2 linked regions of the Homo sapiens genome follow. The protein of the gene in region 1 purifies or fractionates together with the protein of each later gene. This does not show direct contact. Each region holds a gene or a part of one and is shown on either strand. Other genes may lie near its edges.

Region 1 (3,988 bases):
AATGAGCCCTGGCTGCTGTTCCCCTCCAGCGGCTTCTCCTCAAGCCGCCAGCACAGGGAGGGGGCCGGCCGGGCTCGAAAGGAGCATCTGCAGTGCAGACCCTCAGCCTCCCAGGAGCAGGAGGGGCCCAGCAACTGTGGGAGGGCTGTGGGGAGGGAGGACAGAACTCAGCAGGGGGCCTCTTCCTTCTTTAATACCATGCAGTTCCTGCTCCAGCTGCCCCCACACTCACAGTAAACTGAGAGATTCAGAAAAATTTGCAGGAAGCCCAGCGGGTGCTGAGCGCGGCAGGTGAAGCCTCCTTCTTCTGCAGACCTTACTCGACGAAGCTCCAAGATCCCGGTATTGGAGATGGGGGTGGCGTTCAGGGCAGGGGAGCCCTGGAACCAGCTCAGGTGTGCAGGGGGGTTGCTGGGAGCATCACAGAGCAGCCGCAGAGCCTGGCCCTCCAGGACCGGAAGGTATGAGGTGTTTTGCAGGATCTCTAGGGCTTTGGGGAGAGAAGGGTGGGGAAAGAGAGATGGGGCCAGGGAGGCTGACAGTCCCTATCCTTCCCTCCTTCCCAGGATCCAGATGACATCTCCCTCTCCTCCCCTGGCCTATGCTGGCTTGATTGCATCCTGGTTCAAAGGCTGGGCCTTTGCACACTCAGGAAACTGACCAAAAGTGTCTGAGTCTCATGTCTCCAGAGGAGGCTCAATATCTCACTGGTACATGCCTGGACTGTGGTGGAGAGAGGACAGAGAGCCCCCGGTGGCGTTGGGAAATACAGTCCGCTAATGTGACAGGAAATAAGACTGAGGATGCAGGAGTGGAAGGGTGAGAGAAGAACCACAGAGCTGGGCTGACTGAGATGAGAGGGGCATGGAGTGGTCCTTAGTGACTGTGGAAAGAACCAGACCACAGGAGGGATGGGAGATGGGTGGGGTCTAAAGTCTGTTCACTGCTTTGAGCAGAGTGCATGAGTGTGCACCTGTGTGCGTGTGTGTGTGCGTGTGCGGGTGTACGTACATGTGTGCGTGTGTGGGTGTATCTGCATATGTGTGTGTGGTGTATGTGCATGTGTGCGTGTGTATGTGCATGTGCCTGTGTGGTGTATGTGTGTGTGTGCATATGTGTGTGGTGTGTGTGCATGTGTGCCTGTGTGCATGTGTGTGTGTATGTGCGTGTGTGTGTGGTGTATTGCATGTGTATGTGTGTGGTGTATATGCATGTGTGTGTGTGCGTGTGTGTGTGCGTGTGTGCATGTGTGCGTGTGTATGTGCGTGTGTGCATATGTGCCTGCACATGGGGCTCACAGAAGGTGGAAGCCAGAAGGCAGTAATTCTCATTCTTGCTCTTCCCAAATCTGATTGCATTCAAGCTCTGATTCTCTACCTCTGCTCAGAGACAGACCCAGAGGCAGGTCCCAGCTTCAGAGAGGAGGTCTTTCCTACCTATGCCGTTCCTGAAGATGGTGATGGTCTGTGGAGCATCTGGGATAAAAAGATATAAACTTGGCTTCAGCAGTGAGGAGTGAGATGGGCATGGGCCCAGGAGGTACCCAAAGAGGAGCCACAGAAACCCACCAAGCGGGGAAGGCTGTCCTGTCTCACTCCCCGCAGATCCCAAGGCTTAGATCCACACACAAGGTTTCTCAAGTTATTGTTTTGTTTCTCTCTGTCTTCCTTACACACACACACACACACACACACACACACACACCCCTCACTCCCACTGCCCTTGAGGACTCAGCTGTGTCCCCAGCACCACTCACAGGAGACATTGAGCTGGACAGTTCTCTCCGTGGTCACCTGAGCTCCTTGGCGTTTCATCTGACAGGTGAGGTTGGTGCCATGGTCCTCGGGCCTGGGGGTGAGGGTGAGCTCCGAGGAGCGGGTGGTCTCGGGGTCCAGGGGGCTGAGGGCATTCCCCGTCCAGGAGAATGTGAGAGGTGGTCCCGCTTCACAGGATCCTGGAAGGCTGCAGCTCAGCCTTGTGGGGCGGCCGGACTCCAGAGGCTCCAGAAAGTGGATGTCGGGTTTCTCTATCAGGGCTGAGGAGGAGACAGGGAGATACCTGGGCCCCAGGGGCTTGAGGACGTAAGGTGTGACCCCGAGAGTGGCCAGGCCTCAGGCCCCGACCTGCCCCAAGTCCTACACCTCCTCCAGCCGCCCCTGCCCAACTCCTGTCCCTGTTCTCATACGGGGGTCTCCACGTCCCAGGGTCCTCTCCTGGGGTCCCTGCCATACCTGTCACCTCCAAGTTCAGCTTATTCTGTTGGTAGCTATATTTTACATCCCTTCCTCTCTCCACGCGGAAGAAATAGCTTCCCGTGTCCTCCATTCTGGCATCTCCGATGCTCAGGGAGCAGTTCTTCTTCTGGACATCCCCAAGGAGGCGGAATCGGCCCTGGGTCTCTGGCTTCACTCTTCTGTCTGGGTTGTTTGTGGCCACAACCTCAGCGTAGTATGGGATCTCCCCGTCCCGGAACCAGTAGACGTAGAGTGGGGGAGAGGAATACCAGGATCTCCAGGGGTAAGAGAAGGAGCAGGGCACAAGGACGCACAGGCCCTCCTGCACCGTCACCGACTTCTGCACTTGCAGCTCGTACACTGGCTTCTCCTGCAGGGACCCTGGGGGGACACAGAAGCTCAGCTGCAGCTCCAGCCCCCCTTCTCACCCCTGTGCCTGTCCCTCCTCCCTCAGCTCACTCACCCCCCCACAGCAGGGGCAGCAGCAGCAGGGGCAGCATGTCTCCATCCGCCAGGGCCCCAGCCCAGTCCCAGGTCCGGCTGTCAGGGAAGGAAATGCTCCAAATGTCCAAACGTGGGGTGGGGCTGAGAAAGCCCCGACAGGAAGCCGGAGGGTGAGTGAGAGCTGTGGACGCGCACAGAAGGGGAACTTGGGCATCACGTGCTGTTGGGGTGAGGCGGGGGCTGGGAAGCCATTCTGCTCCCACCCCGACTGGACGCCGCAGGTGAAGATACTGAGGCCCCCAGACGATGTGAGGCTTGTCCAGCTGAGGATCTGGAGGTGATCACCCCTCAAATGATGTTTCAGTCATGAGTGAGATCCTCAGGGGGCTGAATGCAGAAAGAAAAGAGAAACAAGGGCTTGTCCTGGTGATGAGGTGAGATGTCAGAACCACCCTCCACCTAAAAACCATGAAACATTCTGGAAATACATAATTTTAAATTTGATTTTAAATGTTCAAAGTGACCAGGCATGGTAGCTCATGCCTGTAATCCCAGCACTTCGGGAGGCTGAGGTGGGAGGGTTGTTTGAGCCCAGGAGTCTGAGACCAGCCTGGGCAACATAGCAAGTCACCATCTCTACAAAAAATAAAAACTATTAGCTGGTGTGGTGGCACACCTATAGTCTCAGCTCCTCCGGGGCACTGAAATAGGAGAATTCCTTGAGCCCAGGAGTTTGAGGTTGCTGTGAGCCGTGATCGCACTACGGCATTCCAGCCTGGGCAACAGAGTGAAACCCTGCCTTAAAAAAAAAAAAAAAAAAGTTCAAAAGGGCTGAAAAAAAATTTTTTTGACCCAAATTTCGTGGAGGGTCAGAGCATGAGAGAGCTGAAGCACTCTTATGTTAAGAAGATTCTTGGGACACAGCACAGTCCACTTTGGGTCTTGATGGACCTGAGGGTCTTGTGGGACGGCAGTGAAACACAAGCCCTGCTAAAGCCTCATCCTATTAAGGAGCTACAGAAGCAAATTTGCCACTGTGAGGCTGATGAAGCTCAATCTTCAATGCCCTCCCTTGCAGGATCCACTTTTCAGATGCCCAGGAGGGGCCCACGCAATGTGTGGAAATAACCTGCCTTGTTACTGCTCTTTTATGAAAGAAATTTCATAATAGTTTCCCAAAATTTAACAATATATTAAAAATTTTTCACATTCCGATTAATGTGTTGTGAGAATAAAGACAGTTTCTTAAACTATCAATGATCAAAACAAACGTCAACCACCCATGCCAGAAGAAATACCGACTTCTCTTT
Region 2 (3,500 bases), on another chromosome or scaffold:
AGAGACTGCCAAGAATACAAAAAATGGAAATGATTTTGCCTATAAAGTAAGCAACTATATTGCCTATCAAAGTACATACTGGACAGGCATGGTGGCTCACGCCTGTAATCCCAACACTTTGGGAGGCTGAGGTGGGTGGATCACTTGAGGTCAGGAGTTTGAGACCAGCCTGGGCAACAAGGTAAAACCCCGTCTCTACTAAAAATACAAAAATTAGCCGGGAGTGGTGGCAGGCACCTGTAATCCCAGCTACTTGGGAGGCTGAGCCAGGAGAATCATTTGAATCCGGGAGGCGGAGGTTGCAGTGAGCTGGGGTGGTGCCACTGCACTCCAGCCCAAGCAACAGGTTAGGAATTTGAGACCAGCCTAGCCAACATGGTGATACCTCATCTCTACTAAAAATACAAAAATTAGCTGGGTGTGGTAGCGGGCGCCTATAATCCCAGCTACTCAGGAGACTGAGGCAGGAGAATTGTTTGAACCCGGGAGGCAGAGGTTTCAGTGAGCCGAGATCAGGCCACTGCACTCCAGCCTGGGTGACAGAATGAGACTCTGTCTTCAAAAAAAAAAAAAAAAAAGAAAGAAAAGCAAAGAAAAGAAAATTCAGACTACCCTAGCTATACTGCAGAAGGAGATGCCAAAGCTGCCTGCCAACACATCAGGGCCCATCCTAAGCACAGAGGATACAAGCTGGATCATCCATGTCTGGTTCAGCTGTGTCAAAAAATGGGTGGGTGCTCAGAAGCTCTGGCACCAAGGGAAGCACCAGGGTTGGATGCCGACTTCCCAGAAACTTCAAGCACCTGAAACAAACAAATAAGAATGCACATCAACAAATTAGTAAAGTTAGTCCTTTGAAAAGTACTAGGAACTGGAATCAGAAAACCTGAACTGGAATTGGAAATTCTCAACCATATACTTTTGCTAACTCTATGACTTCAGATAAGTCACCCAGTTATTCTGGAACTCGGTTAATTCATCTAAAAAAACTGGTTATTATAAAGATAAAAGAACTGGTTATTTAACCAAGAGCCATTTCCCCCATCTTTCTTCCTGAGAGAGCCCTGATTTTACTCAGGTATCAGGCAGGCAGCAAAGTGCTCGGAAAAGGCAGGTCCAGCCCAAGAGCTGAACCACTATTGGTCTAAACCCATCATGGCAATCCCATTCCCATTTTCCAGTGACTGGTTTGCTGGTGGGCAAGTAAGCCAGTTCTAGACAATGGAGCACGAGAGTATGCTGGCTGGGGAGCTTCTCAGGGATGTTTTTGCAAATCAAAAGAGCAATGCATGAAAGGGAATGACCCTTCCTTTCTGTCTTGAGATATTATCTTATGAGGCAGCCATCTTACAACTATGAGAAGAAAGCCGGCCGGGTGTGGTGGCTCACGCCTATAATCCCAACACTTTGCGAGGCCGAAGTGGCTGGATCAGGAGGTCAAGAGATCAAGACCATCCTGGCCAACATGGTGAAACCCCATCTCTGCTAAAAATACAAAAATTAGCTGGGCATGGTGGCACGGGCCTGTAGTCCCAGCTACTCGGGAGGCTGAGGCAGGAGAATCACTTGAACCTGGAAGGCGGAGGTTCAGTGAGCCAATATTATGCCAATGCACTCCACCCTGGCGATAAAGAGAGACTCTGTCTCAAAAAAAAAAAAAAAAAAAAAGCCAAGAGAACTGCAGAGAAACCAAAGAGAGCCCTGGTAACCTGTTGAATGACGAATCCTGAAACCAACCTTCTGACCACTTGTTATGAAAAAACAGACTTATTGGCTAAGATATTTTTAATCAGATTGTCTTTTTTATTTGTGGGCAAAAACATTCTGATTGATATCCTGGGTGAAGTCCTGAAATCACAGATCTGTCTGAAACTAAGTAGCCTTATGCAAGTAAATTTTTTCATCTACAAAATGAGATTAAAAGTCATTACTTCATAGAGTTGCTATACGCATTAAATAACTAACATAAAGTACTTAGCAAAGTGTCTGTCACATAGTAAGAACTCAATGTTAGCTATTATAACTACATGAGGGCCCTTTATAAACTATAAGGAACTATAAAAGCAAGGTAATTATATATTTTTATTATTGTTTATGGTTTTTTTTTTTTTTTTGAGACTGAGTCTTGCTCTGCTGCCCAGGCTGGCATGCAGTGGCACAATCTCGGCTCACTGCAACCTCTGCTTCCAGGGTTCAAGCAATTCTCCTGCCTTCGCCTCCCAAGTATCTGGGATTACAGGCGTGTGCCACTAGGCCCGGCAGATTTTTGCATTTTTAGTAGAGATGAGGTTTCACCATGTTGGCCAGGGTGGTCTTGAACTCCTGACCTCAGGTGATCCACCCGCCCCAGCCTCCCAAAGTGCTGGGATTATAGGCGTGAGCCACTGCACCCAGCCAATTTAGTGCACCTTCTAAACCAGAACTTAATGAATAAAAAATAATAAGGCCAGGCACAGTGGCTCATGCCTGTAATCCCAGCACTTTGGGAGGCCGGGGCAGGGGGATCACCTGAGGTCAGGAGTTCAAGACCAGCCTAACCAACATGGTAAAACCCCATCTCTACTAAAAAAAAAAACAAAAATTAGTTGGGGTATGGTGGCATGCAACCTATAATCCCAGTTACTCGAGAGGCTGAGGCAGGAGAATCGCTTGAACCCAGGAGGCAGAAGTTGCAGTGAGCTGAGATCACGCCACTGCATTCTAGTCAGAGTGACAGAGCGAGACTCCGTCTCAAAAAAAAAAAGTAACAAAACAAAACACTATATAGGAGAAAGAGGAAATCTAATTAATTTATTTCTATACTTGTAACAGCTACCACAAGGGTTGGTGCATAGTCAGCACACAGCAGGCACATAATATTTGCTAGGTGGATAGATGCACAAATTAGTAAGTAATCTAAAATGTGATACTCAGCTTAGGAATCAGATTCCTGAGAGTTCGGTTAAGTTGAATCAGGTTTCTAAAGTAAAGGCAAAATTCAGGGCCGTACTATCCTCAATCTATAAGGACGGAACAAATGTCAGCATTATACATTTACCACATTATGGGACTCAGTGAGTAAATGGGCAAAAAAGTCATTACTTCCATATGGAGTCCCTATCAGTAGGGTACTTGGTTAAATTTTTCAGCAGCTCCACCAATGCAAGATGAATCCCTTCTTTGGTTGAAACATTAGTACAGCATAAGAGTTCATGAAGAGCCTCTCGAATATCTCTGGATGAATCCTTTTAAAAAAAAAGTAATAATAACAGTAGTTACTGTTGGTTAGCAGACTCAGCCTCTATCTACCATCCCCTTCTACCCAGCCACCTTCCCATCTAGGGTGGCCATGTAACAAAGTATGTGGAAGTTTTTTAGCTGAAATTCCTGAAATATCTTTCATTTTATTGATAAAGGACCAGAGGCAGTAGCTTTATCCCCTTTGTTCTTTAACCTTCCTTTTCCATCCTATCTGGAACTCAATCATGATGCTGAAGGTACAAGAGCCTTTTTGCAACTAG

Evidence for each region. The genes of interacting proteins can lie anywhere in the genome.
Region 2: the proteins of SIGLEC5 (region 1) and INTS4 purify together in Homo sapiens (affinity purification with mass spectrometry; one large-scale study listed by BioGRID and IntAct). This does not show direct contact.

The regions. Positions count from the first base shown.
Region 1 is NC_000019.10:51,627,602-51,631,589, forward strand, and holds the start of SIGLEC5 (sialic acid-binding Ig-like lectin 5 isoform 1 precursor), read right to left. Parts: upstream 2,801-3,988; 5' UTR 2,735-2,800; coding exon 2,698-2,734; intron 2,616-2,697; coding exon 2,232-2,615; intron 2,036-2,231; coding exon 1,757-2,035; intron 1,476-1,756; coding exon 1,437-1,475; intron 491-1,436; coding exon 233-490; intron 146-232; coding exon 1-145. UniProt on the Homo sapiens protein: Putative adhesion molecule that mediates sialic-acid dependent binding to cells. Binds equally to alpha-2,3-linked and alpha-2,6-linked sialic acid. The sialic acid recognition site may be masked by cis interactions with sialic acids on the same cell surface.
Region 2 is NC_000011.10:77,921,669-77,925,168, forward strand, and holds part of INTS4 (integrator complex subunit 4), read right to left. Parts: intron 3,225-3,500; coding exon 3,082-3,224; intron 3,000-3,081; coding exon of another isoform or gene 2,978-2,999; exon of another isoform or gene 1,783-2,977; intron 804-1,782; coding exon 688-803; intron 1-687. UniProt on the Homo sapiens protein: Component of the integrator complex, a multiprotein complex that terminates RNA polymerase II (Pol II) transcription in the promoter-proximal region of genes.